3 separate regions of the Homo sapiens genome follow, and regions 1 and 3 are each linked to region 2. Evidence: fine-mapped expression QTL. A gene starts in region 2. Each other region holds a variant in brackets. All regions are shown on one strand. Distances are from middle to middle. Region 1 overlaps EVC (EvC ciliary complex subunit 1). Region 2 holds the start of EVC (EvC ciliary complex subunit 1). Region 3 overlaps EVC (EvC ciliary complex subunit 1).

Region 1 (5,000 bases), 34 kb before region 2:
CAAACAAAGATTCTAAACAATTCTACAGTTTCAGTGAGTTTATCTTGGCAACAATCACGTTCTACAGTGAAGTTCTTTCTGGTTCCATTGTCTGGTTCCAGTGTCAGTCAGTTTTGCAATGGTGTTTCAGCAGACACGAGAGCACTGCTGCTAAGGAAAGAAAGCAGTAGCTTGTCCAGCCTACAGACTCTTGCACAGGTCATTACAGCTACCTAGGGGCCGATGAAATGTGACAATGTGCTCATGGAAGCTTTGGCAATTTTAAATGGGATTAAATACTTCCTGGAAGTAAAAGCATAAACAGATGTTTAAATATTAGTTATTGTCCTAAAAGTACAAAAGCTTAATATGGCAGAGAGGATGCTGACCATGAAAACATTTTGCTTTAAAATCTTCCCTCCCCCTCATTTTATCAGGAGCAGAGCTGGGAATTCCCAAGTGGCTTAGAATGCAGGAGGTTTAATTGAGTCATCACAGCCAGTCAGAGCTCTAAGGACAATGACACTAGGAATCGGAGCAACTTTCCCTCATGGCCCACAGGCTGTTCGCCAGGCTCTGTGCTTCACACATTTGATATCATGATAAAGTATGTATCTAGAGGTGTAGGAACAGGCTCGGGGGAGTTAGGTCACTTGTCAGAGGTCATGGACCCAGTGAAAGCCCGGATTTGGTTCAGGTCCATTTAACTCCACGGCTGAGGTTGCCTCCATCTTGGCTCAGCCTCTGAGAGGCTGAAATGGACACTTCTGGCTGGACTGGGCATGGGAGGGGGCAGGGGTTAGTGTCACCAGAAACCCATGATTTTGTTGCTGTGACTCAAGATCATGAAACTCTGTCAGCCTCAACTGCGGTGTCGGTCTGGCTCTGCCAGGAGGAAGCCTGCACCCAGATGAACACCCCTCATCAATGCGGCTCCCCATCTCAGGGCCCCATTGCCTCCCAGTAAACCCCATACATGCTGCTCCTCCTCTCATCCCTGCCAGGAGGGACCTCAAACCTGCCTGACACCCTCAGGCTCTCACCCTGCTCTTCCCCTTGGAGCCATCAGATGACCTGCCTTCCACCTGCCACGTGACTGCAGACTGTCACCTGCCAACTCTACACAGCCCGCTCTGCTTACAAACTCCTGATTCTCTTGGCGTCCATGACATGATTTTCTCCTGCTTCTGCAAAGCCCATCCAATTCCTCCTCTGCTTTCTTGTCCCAATTCTTCTCATCCGCTCCTCCTTAAATATGGGCAGGATCCAGGATTTGGCACCAAAGCTCTTTTCTCTTCCCATTTTACACACCATTTCTAGGCCAGAGGTCACCATTTTTGGAGGTCACCAATACTTTGGAGAATCTTATGAAAATTCTGAACCCTGTCCCTGAGAAAGGCAGACATGGACAAGATACTGCACACAGCGTTGGGGGTTCTGTGGACCACCGGAATCCAGGCTGGCCCTCTTCCTTAGCATCCTGGCCCACAGTTCTAAGAACATTCTGGCCCTCAAAGTCCTCTAACCTGGGCTCTCATGGAGACCCTCCATCTCCAAGCCTCTCCTCTCAATATTGGACCTATTCAGAGGACAGGAGCATTGGCTCCCTCCCTCCCATGAGCATCTTGCTCTGGGGCGCTTATTTCAGCAGCACTGACCCTGGACCCCCTCCTCCTCCCCACCTGCCGCCCCATGGTAGACCACCACAGCTTCTCTCACACGTTTCCTCACCTCTCCATCCTACTGCAGTTGCCTTAATAAAGTTCCTGCTGGATTAGCCCAGTAGCTCTTCACCACCCTCCACTCAGTGCCTGGGCAGCCCTTCTAAAGCAGAAGCTGAAGCCAGCCACCCCCTGCTTCAAAGCTTCAGTGACTCCCACCTCGCTGGCAATAGACACTCCCATCTCGCTGGCTTAAGACACAAACAAGCCCTCTGGCCAGATCCCTCTGGCTTTACCTTACCTCGACTTGCTCTCAGCCCTCTTTAGCTCCCATCTCTGCCCCACCACTGGCCAGCACCCACACTTCTCCCGGCCAGCCTCTCCATGGTCCCTTCTTCTACGGAGGCTTTCCTAAGCCTGGGGTAAAATGAACTCTTCCCTCCACTGTGCCTGCCTCGGGCCTTCTCCTGTGCTTCCTTCTATCACAAGATGTGTCACTCTGTGAAGCCCTCATCTGTTCACCTGTTTGTCTCTCCTGGCCTCTCTCAGGCAGGGCCATGTCTAAATGATTTTTGAGTCCCCAGTGCCCAGCACAATCCCTGGTGAAGAGCAAGTGCCAAGGACATGTTTGTTTAATACATAATATATGAACAGGGGGTGGTGGAACCCAAAAGAAAAGAAAAACGATGTTTCAGAGAAGCCATTCTGTCTGGAATTTAAAACTTGCTTTCACGAGTGATGCCTAGCAGCTTTCTTCTACTCTATTCCAAAGGGCAGTGATGACATCAAGGGTTATAGCAACCTTTGCTTTGAATGATAAAAAGACCAATCTGAAATTTAAATGAGGATAATTCATGATATAAAAAATAAACCTCCCTTTGTGAATCTTTGCTGCTTAATTACTTCTTCCCTATCACTTAGCATCAGAAACTGGATCCTGCCTCTAGGGCAGAATGCGATAGGGGAATTCAAGTATTAGGCACACTTCTAACTATCATCTCTCTAATGTAGCCAATTTAACTGTTTTAGGAACCAAAATTTGTGTACAGGAAAGAAAGTC[T/C]GGCACGCACATTATCGATTAGCTGTTCAGAGTATTCTCTCTCCTTCTTTTCCACATCAGCCAGGGTGATGTACTCAGAGTCACCAGCCCCCGACATTTCTGTGTTTGACAGTTTGACCTGAAGTCCCTTTTCTAGTTCCTCCAAATCCTGAAGAAGAAGAAGAAAAAAGAAAGCAAATAAACAAAGAAAAAGTTTAGCGTGTCTTAAATTCTAGAAAAATAAATGCTTTTATTTTTCAAATTTCACAAAATATTTTTAAACAATAGTTAAATGCTCTGGGGGTTGTTGTACATGAGGTTTGACCCATTTTCTCATTAAACATAGAGCCTCAAGAATAATGGATTATTTTCCTCTATATCCTCCCTCAAAAAAAAAAAAAAAACTAGACCATACTTTAAAAATCAATAAAATAGTATCTTTCAATCATTATGAAGTCCTGGAAAATATCATGACATCCAGTGGGTTGGGAAGGAATGTTTCTTTGCTCCTCTTCTGGTTTTCCTGGGAAAGAACAACACCCCAGGGCAGGAAGTGGTGTGTATTTGATTGGTTGGTTTAAAGGCCAGAAACTTGCCCAGCCTCTTCCTGTTTGTGATGGGCCAATCAGGGGAGGCCATTGCTCTGGTGTGATATCAGCCTAGAGTGAGCTGGGTAGCCAAGGCCCTGTTTCTGTGTGGGGAAGCCTGAGGTGGCCCAGCATTGCCCGTGACTAGCTAGGCAATTGAGTGAATTCTGGGATTCAGTATTAGGAAGCCATGATAGCTGTGCATGTAAGCCACATCGTCCAAGCTGGCCTCTAATCAGTAACAAAGCTACATTTCTATATCTGTCCTCCTGACTCTCTCAAATGATTCTGAACTCAGGAAGGAAAAGGTGAGTCCTAAGTATAGACTCACAAACCCCAAGATAGTGTGTGGGAGGCAGTTCTATTTTCTCTATATTCATTGTCACATAGCCAACAGTGTGGCATGGGTCAAGGTTCACTAGGAAAAATAACATTGATATAAACTACTATTGAAGACCCAAGCTGAGGCCATATGTGATTTCTAATCCTCACGGCATCTCTGTGAAAGAGAAATTATGACCCATTTCCAGGTGAGAAAGCTGGTTTATGGAAGGTAAGATAGTTTGTCCAAAGATGCCCAGGCAGGAAGGGGCAGTGCCAGGCTTGTCCTTACTCTTCCAAATTCTGGGCACTCCTTGTCCTCTTCTGAAAGTTTTAAGGTCATTCCAAGTGTTAAATGAAATTATGCATTTAAATCACTTGGCTAGCCTATCTCAACAAATAGTAGCCACTATTATAATTAACATGCTTGCTTAAGTTCAGACAGCCTTGTTTAACTCGTAGAGATGGAATTTGATCTGAGGTCTGCAGACTCCAAGGCTCTTATTCTTTCTATTATAACAGACAGTATTGTTTCATTATTACTAATACCATTATAAATGTCATCATCATCATTATCATTTTTGCCATTGGAAAGTCATTTGAACTTATGGAGTCTCAGTTTCTTCAGCTGTAAAACAAAAATAACAATGGCCACTCACAGGGCTGTCATAACTATTAAATGAAATAATGTATGTCAAGCACGACGTGCACTGCCTGAGGACCATGACCATGGTGGTGATACTGAGGATGACAGTGAAGATGATGATGTCCTTCCTCCTTCCTGGGATGCAGTGAGTCATCCTTCCTCATGGAATCCAGTGGAGTAAAGAAGAAACATTCCTTCCCAAACCCCCAGATCTCACAGTGGTAGGAACAAGGACGATGACGATGACAATGAGGACTCTAATGAAGGTGAAGGTAGAGGTAGCAGGAAAGATGATAAAGGTGGTGATGGTGGTGCTGATGAAGATGGTGATGATGGTGGTGCTGATGAAGACTATCACAACAATGATGCGATGACGATGGCAGTAATGAAAATGATGACAATAACAATGATGATGATAATGAAAATGATGGCAGGGGATGATGAATAAGAGGCTGGTGATAGTAGTAACGAGAATAATGATGACAATGATGGTGAGGATAAGGTGAGGTAGGAGACTGGCAGGACTTGTTTTCTGATCACAACCCTGCTGATCAAAATGGGATCTGGTCCAGACAGGATAAAGTGAAGAAACCGGCAGGAACCAGTGGATGGTGATGAAAGTGATCCCTTGCTGCCCTCATTGCTCATTAGCATAAGACACTCCCACCAGCACAACCACAGATTACAAATGCCATGTCAACAACCCAAAAGTTACCACCCTTTTCCATGGCAACAACCCAGAAGTTACTGTCCCCTTTTTAGAAAGT
Region 2 (5,084 bases):
TTTTTTTTTTTTTTTTTTGAGACGGAGCCTTGCTCTATCGCCCAGGCTGGAGTGCAATGGTGCGATCTTGGCTCACTGCAACCTCCGCCTCCCAGGTTCCAGCGATTCTCCTGCCTCAGCCTCCTGAGTAGCTGGGATTACAGGCTCCTGCCACTATGCCAGCTAATTTTTGTATTTTTAGTAGAGGCAGGGTTTCACCATATTGGCCAGGCTGGTCTCGAACTCCTGACCTCAGTTGAACAGCTCGCCTTGGCCTCCCAAAGTGCTGGGGTGACAGGCATGAGCCACAGTGCCCAGCCTGGGCATTATCTTTTGCAGGCAGCCAGGAGTCACTGGAGGTGTTTAATCAGGAGAATCATATTGTCTGACATACATTTTATAAATAAAAACTAGAGGGAGGAGACAGGAGGAAAAGAATCTCATTAGAAAGAAGGTTGTCGCAAGGATCACATCAAACTGTAACAAAATCCTATTAGTCCTACTTTGAGCCACAGACCCCTCCATGGCTGCCACCCTGGTCTGAGCCACCATCACCCTCAACTGACTAGCTGTGCAAACCCAGATGGCTTGGTTAATCCCGGTAAGCCTCAGCTGACTCAGCTAGCAAATGGGATACTAACCACCACCTCACCAGGTAGCAGATACTTAAGGCTCTAGCTTTGGGGTTCAAACCAACTAGGGTTGAAATTCAGTCCCACTGTTTACTCATCGTGGCACCCTGGACAAACACCCTTGCAGAGCATCCCCTGCCTCACTGTAAAGTGGGGATAATGGCAGTTCCTCCACCTCATGGGCTGGAGGATAAAGAACCAGATGTCTATAAACATTGCACAGGACACCCAGCCAAGTCTCTGTGTGTTACTTCCCTTTCTCTCTCCATGCAACAAGCCAGCATCTCTTAGTGTCTCTTAATCACCAGCAGGATCTGACAACCCCCAACTCACCTACGAGCATCTTGCATTATCTCAGTTTCAGCCCTCATCAGCTCTTTGCGGTGTAATGCTCCCCATGAGTCACCAAATTCCCCTATATTCTGAAAGAGCCTGTGCCTACATGGAAACCGCACAAGATCTGTCTCATCTTCCCACGGGCCAGAAATGGGGGTAGCAAGACCACGCCATCTTGTTTCTGATCGCGCAGACTTTACTCTCCTCCCACCCCAAAGAGGCAGAAGTTGCAAGGACCTAAAATAGTGGCCATACCACTATTCATGGAATGCCTGCTATATGCCAGGTGTTGCCATGCACAGCCAATTCCATGAGGGCCACTTGCATAGGAAGCATCCACTGGTCTCCTTCAGGCAGCCACCCCGACCCTCATCCATGAAGAACACAGTGGCTTTGGGGTTAGACACTTCTGTCACTTTAGTAAGTTGCTTAACCTCTCTGTGCCTCAGTTTCCTCATCTGCAAAGCAGAGACAAACTGTTGTGGAGATTCATTGAGATCATTTAGGGAGAGGGTCTAGTTCAGTGCCTGGTACACAGCACTTAATAAACGCTAGCATTGCCAGCGTCCCATCGCAGACTCCCCATGCGGTGTCATAACCGATAGTTTACTTGCAAACTTGCAATTCGTCCTTCTCCTTGAGGTTCACAGCCTCAAGGCAGGGTCTCTCCCGCTCATGAATGTCGTCCCTAGGCCAGTGACTGGCTGTAGAAGGTGCCTGAAAACTTTTACTGTGGGGTGAATGAAAAAATGAATGCCAATGTGGCAGCTGGGACTCAGGCCAGGCGACGTAACCCACACCGCAAGGATGGAAGAGGCAGAAGCAGGAATAGGCATTCAGGCGTGGGAGCCCCAGCCGTCCTTCTGTCCACCATGGCGAGCAGGGCCAGCGTCCTGTCCAAACCCTTGGTGCTGCAGATGAGGAGACCGAGGCGTGGCGCAGTTGGGCTGCTGTCAAGGATCACCCAACGGAGTGGGATGTAACAGGCACCGCAGGGGACCCCAGGCCAATGCCCTTTAGTCACGCCGCCACCTCCCTCCTGGAGCAGAAGGGGAACCCGACGCCTAAGCGGTTGCGTGCGAAGTTCCCAACCAGGCTCAAGGAGTCGCAGAGCCGGGGCTCCGGGCCCGCAGGACCCAGAAGCCACGCGCCCCGCGCTCCCCGCCCCGCCGCTGTCTGCTCGGCCGACCCACCTGGTGTCGCGTGCGCTGGCGGCCCGCGCGGCAGCCAAGCCAAAGGCCGAGGCCGAGGCCGAGCGCGGCGCCCAGCAGCACGGCGGGGGCCAGCAGGGCGGGCGCCGGCCGCAGCGCGTCCCGCCCCAGCAGCAGCCGCGCGTCGCTCTTGCAGGCCGCCCCGCCGCGGGCCATCCGGGGCGCTCAGGCTGCCGCCCCGCCGCATCCCGCCGCCTGCTGCACCGTCCCCGCCAGGGCGGCGACGCGGGACTTGGAGCCCGGGCGGGCCAGGGGCGCGGCCCGCTCCGCAGACTTTCTGGCCTGTGCAGTCTCCCGACTCCTGCTTCTCTCCCCTTCCCTGCTTCGCCGAGCCGGAGGGAGGAGCCTGGATCACCGCTCAAAACTTTCAGCCACCCCCGCCCCAGCCCTGCCCCTGCACTGAGCATGCCCAGAGACAGACGCGCCTCCCAGCCCCGGACCCTTCCGGAGGGGGGCCCGGTTTCCACCCCTTTAACTTTACTGAGGCTTAGAAGGCTCCTTTAAGTTTTTTGAGGCTTAGAATATGCTACGCATTTAGCTTAATGATCTCATTAACTTTCTCAATAACCCTCTGCGGTGGGTGCTCCGCCCATCCTCCTGATGAAGACGCTGGGATCAATGCAATTCCAACCCCCTGCCCTTGCCCCTAACCTCTACCCATCAACCTTCCCGGGAACACACCGCCCTCCACGCCTCTGAACTTGCTCACGCGAAGACTCCTGTTTTAATCTTATTTTGTCCCAGGGAAGGTCGAGACAATGGGTGGAGACACCGTTACACTCAGTCTCCACTAGGAGGATGGGTAAAGGGATCCTTACACCCAGACCCCACTGAGACGATGGGTAGAGAGACCCTTACACCTAGTCCCCACTAGGACCAAGGGTAGAGAGACCCTTACACCCACTCCCCACTGAGACAATGGATAAAGAGACCCTTACACCCGCTCCCCACTAGGACCAGGACACTGCACCATCCTTCATTTACTCAGCACTTGGAGAGAATCTGTTGTGTGTGTGTTGCAGGCTGGGGGATAGGCCAGCCACAAACCAGGCAGTGTCCAGGCTAGTGAGTATCTCACAGTTGTTTAGAGTGATAAAAAATTAAAGGAGTTCATCACTGTGTTTGCTTTAAACAAACATTTATGGGGTAGCTACTAGATGTTTGCTTTTGTCCTGGGTGCCTGGGTAAAGCACACATGCACATGCACGACTGCACACTTGCACTCAGGGGCACACACACACACACACCTACCCTGTGGAGCTTAATTCCCTGTGTGGGCCGGGCTAGGGGACACCATGGGGATCTGCTTCAGCAGAGGAGGGCTTTGTCCTTTCAGCCTAGATGTCCAGCTTGTTTCTAGTTTGTTTCATCATTTCCTCATGGCAAGATGGGAACTGTTATCCAAATTCTTCATCTTTTTTTAATAAATGAAGAAACTGACAGCTGGAGAGGAGAGGTGACTCATTTGCAATTAAGGAGTGGGGCAGAATTCTTGTCTCATTTACACCTGTGTCTGGCTTCAGGGCAAACTCTCTGCTATGTGGAGCTTCTTATATATTACCTTAGAAGCATCTCCAAGGTTCCTGGGGACATGTATGGGGGCAATAACTTGACGCTCTTGTTTTACATTTCCATGAATGCTTAGGCTTTAGTTTTTAAAATGTGGTGTTTGGGCCAGGTGTGGTTGCTCACGCCTGTAATCCCAGCACTTTGGGAGGCTCAAGTGGAGGATTGTCTGAGCCCAGGAGTTTAAGACCAGTCTTGGCAACATAGTGAGACCCTGACTCCATAAAAAATACTAAGGAGATTTTTTAAATGTAGGGTTATTTGCTTTTTACTTTATCATAAAGTTGTTGACTATTAAATTAACCTTTAAATGACTGACTGTCAAACAACTCCAACGGTCCAGCAACATGCTTGGCATTTAGCCTGTGGTCTTGTCACATGCCTGACAGCTGCCACGTACCCCCTGGTGTGGGGAACTTGGCTTATAAATTCTCAGCTTCTCGAACCCCATGGCCTTGTCCATGTTAGGTCAGGAAAGGCCTGTCCTTGGATGGTCTGGGTTATGGGGAGAGAGGCTGCCAGGGGCCAGGCTCGCTGGCCTGAGACTTTATAGACAGCCTAACAGCCTGCCCCGCAGGAAGGCTGGCGGGAGTGGAGCCCTCCCCCGTCAACAGGTGTCAGCTGTCACCCAGGACCTAGGCAGGGATGAGGAAGCACACAAAAGGCTCCACCAGTCCCCCTTTTTGTGTCTTTCTCCTCCTCCTCCTCCTGCGTCCCTTGGCAAAGCAAATCCCTGTCCCCTCGGAGAGTTCAGGGAGAGCTTGCTTAGGGCTGCGACTTCAGACACCAGCTCCCCTCTTTCTAGGTCCCCAGAGAGGTGGCCCAGCGGCTGGCCTGTTTCCCACTGGGAATGCGAGGGGCACCCGGGCCGGCCCAGGGCTGACCCACAGCAGGCTCGGGCAGTGGGTGCTCAGCTGGTCTGCACTGAACGCAACCGGAAGTGAGGGTCCTTTTCCTTCTCTGCGGCCACCCCCTCCTCCCCGAGCTTTCCTGAACCTTCTGGGTGCTCCAGGACTCCCGGCCCCGCGCTCCAAATGCTTCTCCGTTTTCTAAGCGGGGATGGGGAAACTCTGGATTCACATCCGTGTGTCAGGAAACCGTTCCCAGGGGAAGTGCGTCTGAGCTGAGGCTTACAGACCCAGGTAGGCGGTAGCGGAGGGGCCCTTGGGGTCCTGGTAACCTCGGGGAGCAGGGGAGTGACCCGCTCTGATTCGGTTTGGGCGCAAGCAAACCCAGGCCTGGCCGCCGGGCGCCTGGGCCGCGCCAACTCGCTCTCCCCCTCCCACGCCCGTCCGGCACCTCCTGGCCCGCCAAGCCCCAGATGCGGGTGTTTGTTCCAGAAAACTTTCGGCGGCGGCTC
Region 3 (5,000 bases), 46 kb before region 2:
GCCTCAACCTTGGCAAAATAAACTTTCTAAATGAACTGAGACCCGTCTCAGATGTTCTGGGTTTACATTTATATACTGCTTGGCTTACCCTTTGCAGCAATCATTGATAGGGTTTTACTCAGGCTGTCAGCCTGGTTGTGTAATTGTGAGCAAGTGATCTAACCTGTACCTCAATTTCCTTAATCTTGATGACATTCTGATGCACAGCAAGGTTTGAGAACTGCTTTAGAGAGGATGGGTGAGAATCCAATAAGCTACCATAGGGGGTGAGGAGGAGAATGCTGCTGAAACCACCCCCGCCGCCCATAGCCTCTGGGCCACCTGGGCTCACCTCCGGCAGGGGAAATAAGTGGCCCGGCTGGGAATTTGAACCCCAGATGTCTGGCTCCAGAGCCTGGGCTTCACCATTATGCTCCACAGCCCACACGTAAGGCAGGATAGGTAGTCAAGGAAGTGACCATGTCCTTGGGATGCGGCGACCAAACCATCAACACAGTAAGCCTCAGCATTTACACTGTAGTCTGGCTCTTTCAAGCAGTTATCTGCAGTAGGCAACGTCTCCTGCAGTCGGCAGGTGCACTTTGATTTTATCTGTCCTCAGACTGACCCTCTGCGCCATTATAATAGTAAAAAACACACCTTTGGACGGAGACTTAAGATGCTAATGAGACATGTGACGTATGAACAAGTGTGTACAGCTACTGTGCCTGGGCACTCAGAGGACCCGCCCCCACCGCCCTCCACAACATGCTTACTAATAATGCTTCTTCCCACGCCCTTATGAATAATCACATAAGACTCCCCAGAAAGGGAGTTTCCCCGGTAAGTCAAGGCTGTCTCATCTGCTCTGAATCATCTCCCAGGGCATCCTGTCTATTCTGCACCTAACTTTCAGAACATTCTTTCTCCTTTGCAATAAATTGCTCTGTGCTGCATCCCCTTTACTGTGGTCTCTTGTTTACATACTTTTAAACTAAAAACACAAGAAGCGAGGTTTCACAACAGCCGTCAACACTGAGCAGCATGGTTGGGGTGAGCACATCAGCACTAACATTAGAAAGCCTTTATTTTAAATCTCACCTTCCCCGCTTGCTAGCTGTGTAAAACCTGGGCAAGATACATGGGCCAGCACAGACAGGTTATGTAACCAGCCAAGGTCACACAGCATGTTAGCACTCAGAGGAAGATTAGAACTTGGTTTCCCCATGCCCAGCCAGGGATGTGAGTCTTGACTCCTCTGGGGACAAAGTTGTTCCTTTCCTGTCTGTGGGCCCCAGGGCTTTGACAAATTGAGCCCCATCCTACCCATTTCTGGAGAAAACACTTCTTCACTCCTCATCTGGGAAGGAAGGAAAATGCAGTGTCTTCCTCATGAATCTCATGAGAATTAAATAATCAAATACTCAAGAGGCACTTAAGATAGGAGCTAGCCCTGAACAAAGATCGCCTTCCGTTTAGTTTCCTGTGGCTGCCATGACAAAGCGCCGCAAACTGGGTGCATTAAGACAACGAAGTTTATTCTCTCACCGTTCCGGAGGGCATTAGTATGAAACCAAGGTGTTGGCAGAGCCTCGCCCCCTCCAAAGGCTCTGGGAGGGGCCCTTCCTGGGCTCTTCTGGCTTTTGGTGGCTGCAGGTGTTCCTCGGCTTGTGGCTGCATCACTCCAGTCCCTCCTTCTGTCTTCAAACAGCCTCCTTCCCTGTGTCTCTATGTCTTCTCATGGCCTTCTTATAAGGACACCAGCCATTAGAATTAGGGCCCACCCGAATCCAGTAGGACCTAACCAACTGTGCGATCTAACCAATTACATCTGCAAAGCCCTTATTTCCAAGTGTGGCCACATTCCGAGGTTCCAGATGGACATGACGTTTTGAAGGACACTGTTTGGACTAAATTGTGTCTCCCTCCAAAATTCTTAGGTTGAAGCCCTAACCTCCAATATCCCATGTGACTGTATTTGGAGGTAATTAAGTAATCAAATTCTTATGTTGAAGCTCTAACCTCCAATATCCCATGTGGCTGTATTTGGAGACAGGGCCTTTAAGGAGGTAATTAAGGTTAGATGAGGTCATCAGGGTGGGGCCCTAATCCCATAGAACTGGTGTCCTTATAAGAAAAGGGAGAGACCAGAGCCCTCTCTTTCATTCTCTCCCCTGCCCTTCAGTCTTCCAAGCACAGAGAAATAACCGTGTGAGGAGGCAACGGGAAGGCAGCTGTCTGCAAGCCCGGAAGAGAGGCCTCACCAGAAGTCAATCCTGTTGGCACCGTGATCTCGGGCTTCAGCCTCCAGAACCTTGAGAGAACGCTTTTCTGTTGTTTAACCCACCAGTCAGTGGTATTCACCACGGCAGCCCTAGCAGGTTAACAGAGACATGACTGACCCCAGTGCAGCTCCCATCCGGGTGAGGAGTTGCACTTCCCACCACTGCATGAGCTTCTCCCTGATGGGGATGCCCGCTGACTCCTTGTCCACTTGGGCCTGGTCTCATCCAATGCTTGGCTCAGCAATGCCTCCTACAGGCTGCTGTCCTTGACGTCACCTTCACCCAGGAGCCCCTTGCCTCTCCTCTGCACTCAGAAGCAGGGAAGCTGTCACTGGAGACAACGTGCCCTGGGGTGTTCCGAGTGCCAGCTGCTGTCTCGGGTCCCCAAACACAGTCCTCCT[A/G]GCACACCATGAAGAAGAATTATGACTGTCCCCATTTCACAGATGGGGAAACTGAGGGCTAGAGGCCAAGTGATGCTCCTGTGGTCACGCAGTGAGGAAGCGGGGAGCCAGGACACAGACCCAGGCCCTCTCCTCCTCCCAGTGCTGCCCAACACCCACTGGTTGATTCCTTCATAGCCAGGTGTCCACACTCCTGTCTTTCCAACAACTGAGGATGCTGCCTGAGGCAGGGGCTCTGTCTGGCTCAGCATGGCATCCTGTGACTCCTGCCCCTAAAGAGGGCTCAGGTGCCCTCTCCTGCTCTCTGAAAGTCACCCTGCAGGGCAAGCATGGCCAGCTTCACCTCCCCACCCCAGACCTGCACACGGTTGCACAGGGGAAAGAGGTGGTGTGGCATGTGATCTCTGACGTCCCCATTTCAGCCCAGAACCCCTTCTTCATCACCACTTTACACTGATGACACCCAGAAACCCTGGGCCTATTTCTCACCTGGGGAGAACGGATTTCCAAAGAGCTTTGCTGACAGGGATGTGTGGAGATAAGAATCCTCAGCACCCCAAAAATGGACGGTGCCTCAGAGAGGACCAAGGCCAACTGCCTCGGTTTCTGATGTGGGCAAGGAGGATCGCATGGAGGGGACACAGCCTGCGTGGATCACCGGCCAATGAGTGCGGGGTTGGACCTGAACCACCTCTGGGGTCCCCAGCCAGGAGGATGTGAGGTTCTCGCACACACACAGACCCTGGGGCTTCTCTGCTGGTCCCCACAGAGGCCATGTACCTGGCAGAGTGCAACCACAGCCTCGGTGGCTCTGACATTCTCCTCTTCCTCCAGGTCACACTGCATCAGCCTCTGCCTCTCCAGGACCTCATGAAAAGCCTGTGAGGAAAACAAGAGCTGAGTCTGGTAGAAACATGCAGGGTTTTTTTTTTTTTTTCCAGAAGGTTCTCCAACCATCCCCTGCATCTCAGGTTAGAAAGAAGGATGTTGGCACCTGTATTACACACAAGGAAACTGAGGCATGGGGCTGTCACATGGCTTTCACAGCTGATGCCAGGGTCAGCAAATCCGATTTCCAGGAAACACCACAAACCACCACGCTTTTGTTAAAGCCAGGATGAGGAGGGGCCACTGGACCACTTCTGTCACTCCTCTGTCCTGGCTGCAGCCACCCAGACATCACTTTCTGACCACCCAGGCCATGGAAGACCCACTGATGGGAACCCAGCAGGGGTGACACAGACTGGCGATTGGAGGTCAGTGCAGTCAGCAACCAGCCAGGCCCCACTGTGACCACGGGGTGGAGGCCCTTCCCTGAGGACCCCAGCAGAGCAGCAGGAGACTGGGCTAACCCGGGCATCAGCAGGGGGAGACCCAGCCAGCCCTAAACAGAGCATCAGCGAGGGGCGAGGTGGGGCAGAAGGACAGAGGAACAGACCCTTCTCAGGGAAGGGTTGCAGGAGAAAATTCCCTGTTGGGGAGATGTTTCAATGGAGTCTCTAAGGACAAGGAAGGACTCCTTGGAGGGAAGATGGGGAGCCAGGCTCAGCGAGCAGCAGCAGAGACCAGGAGGTAAACCCCCTAAGATCTTTGGTGATGCTACGGGCAGGAGGTGAGATGAGAGAGAAGGGCGGGACTGGAAAAAGGTGGGTGCTGAGTGTGTACTGGGAGCCTGGTGTCGTTCGTTCATTCTCCCACCCATTCCATCCTCCTTCATTCGCTCGTTTGCCCATTTGTCCATGTCCTGGTTCATTCAGGCACGCATGCGCTCATTCACCCTTCCCTGCCTGCGTCCCACGTGTCCTGAACGCCAGCGCTGAGGCGTTCCGAGGACTGTACCGAGGCCCTGGGACACCAAGGTCACCCAGGCACTGTCTCCACACTCTGGACTCACACTGGGCTCTGTGACATCAAGGACAGGGGCCCAGAAATATCCAAATAACGAGGAGCTGAATAGCCTTATCTTCCTCTTATTTCAAATGGGTCTCAAAGATAGAAAAACCTACCCTACCCCTTTGTGGCAAATGCAGAAGCTCCAAGTATGGGCCTGGAAGAGGCCCCCTGGGTGAGGGAGGCAGCTGGACCAGGGACCTAGAGGCCTGTCCTCTGTTCTCGGGGGACCCCTCCATTGGCTTCTCACTGCAGTGGTGCCACCACCACCAGCTTGGCCCCCAGGGAGAGCCCCTGGGCCTCTATTCTGGGCTGAGCCTGGACCCAGACATGGTGCCACCCACCCCTTGGCAGAACTGAGATGTGCTGTACCAAGTGTTGACGGAGGGCAGGCGGACCCAGGCAAACAGTGAGGCTGGGGCTGCCCCTTCCTTGGTCTCACTGA

The links. PIP is the estimated chance that this variant, and not a neighbour inherited with it, causes the effect.
Region 1: its variant is the best candidate, but not a certain one, in a credible set for the expression of EVC in esophagus muscle (GTEx, PIP 0.55).
Region 3: its variant is the best candidate, but not a certain one, in a credible set for the expression of EVC in fibroblasts (GTEx, PIP 0.71).

Annotation. Positions count from the first base shown.
Region 1 is chr4:5,743,052-5,748,051 of GRCh38, reverse strand. EVC (EvC ciliary complex subunit 1) reads right to left here. Exons shown (of 21, transcript NM_153717.3): 7 at 2,711-2,848. Among named protein-coding and RNA genes, the nearest start is that of EVC, 34 kb to the right of the region's middle. The variant T/C (reference allele first, on the strand shown) is at 2,701.
Region 2 is chr4:5,708,611-5,713,694 of GRCh38, reverse strand. EVC (EvC ciliary complex subunit 1) reads right to left here and starts at 2,494. Exons shown (of 21, transcript NM_153717.3): 1 at 2,141-2,494. The coding sequence starts at 2,314. It also overlaps a transcript of EVC2 not described here. RefSeq lists enhancers at 851-1,160, 1,746-1,815, 4,577-5,084 and silencers at 2,286-2,435, 2,486-2,535, 5,047-5,084.
Region 3 is chr4:5,754,808-5,759,807 of GRCh38, reverse strand. EVC (EvC ciliary complex subunit 1) reads right to left here. Exons shown (of 21, transcript NM_153717.3): 11 at 3,446-3,544. Among named protein-coding and RNA genes, the nearest start is that of EVC, 46 kb to the right of the region's middle. RefSeq lists enhancers at 489-538, 207-1,406. The variant A/G (reference allele first, on the strand shown) is at 2,666.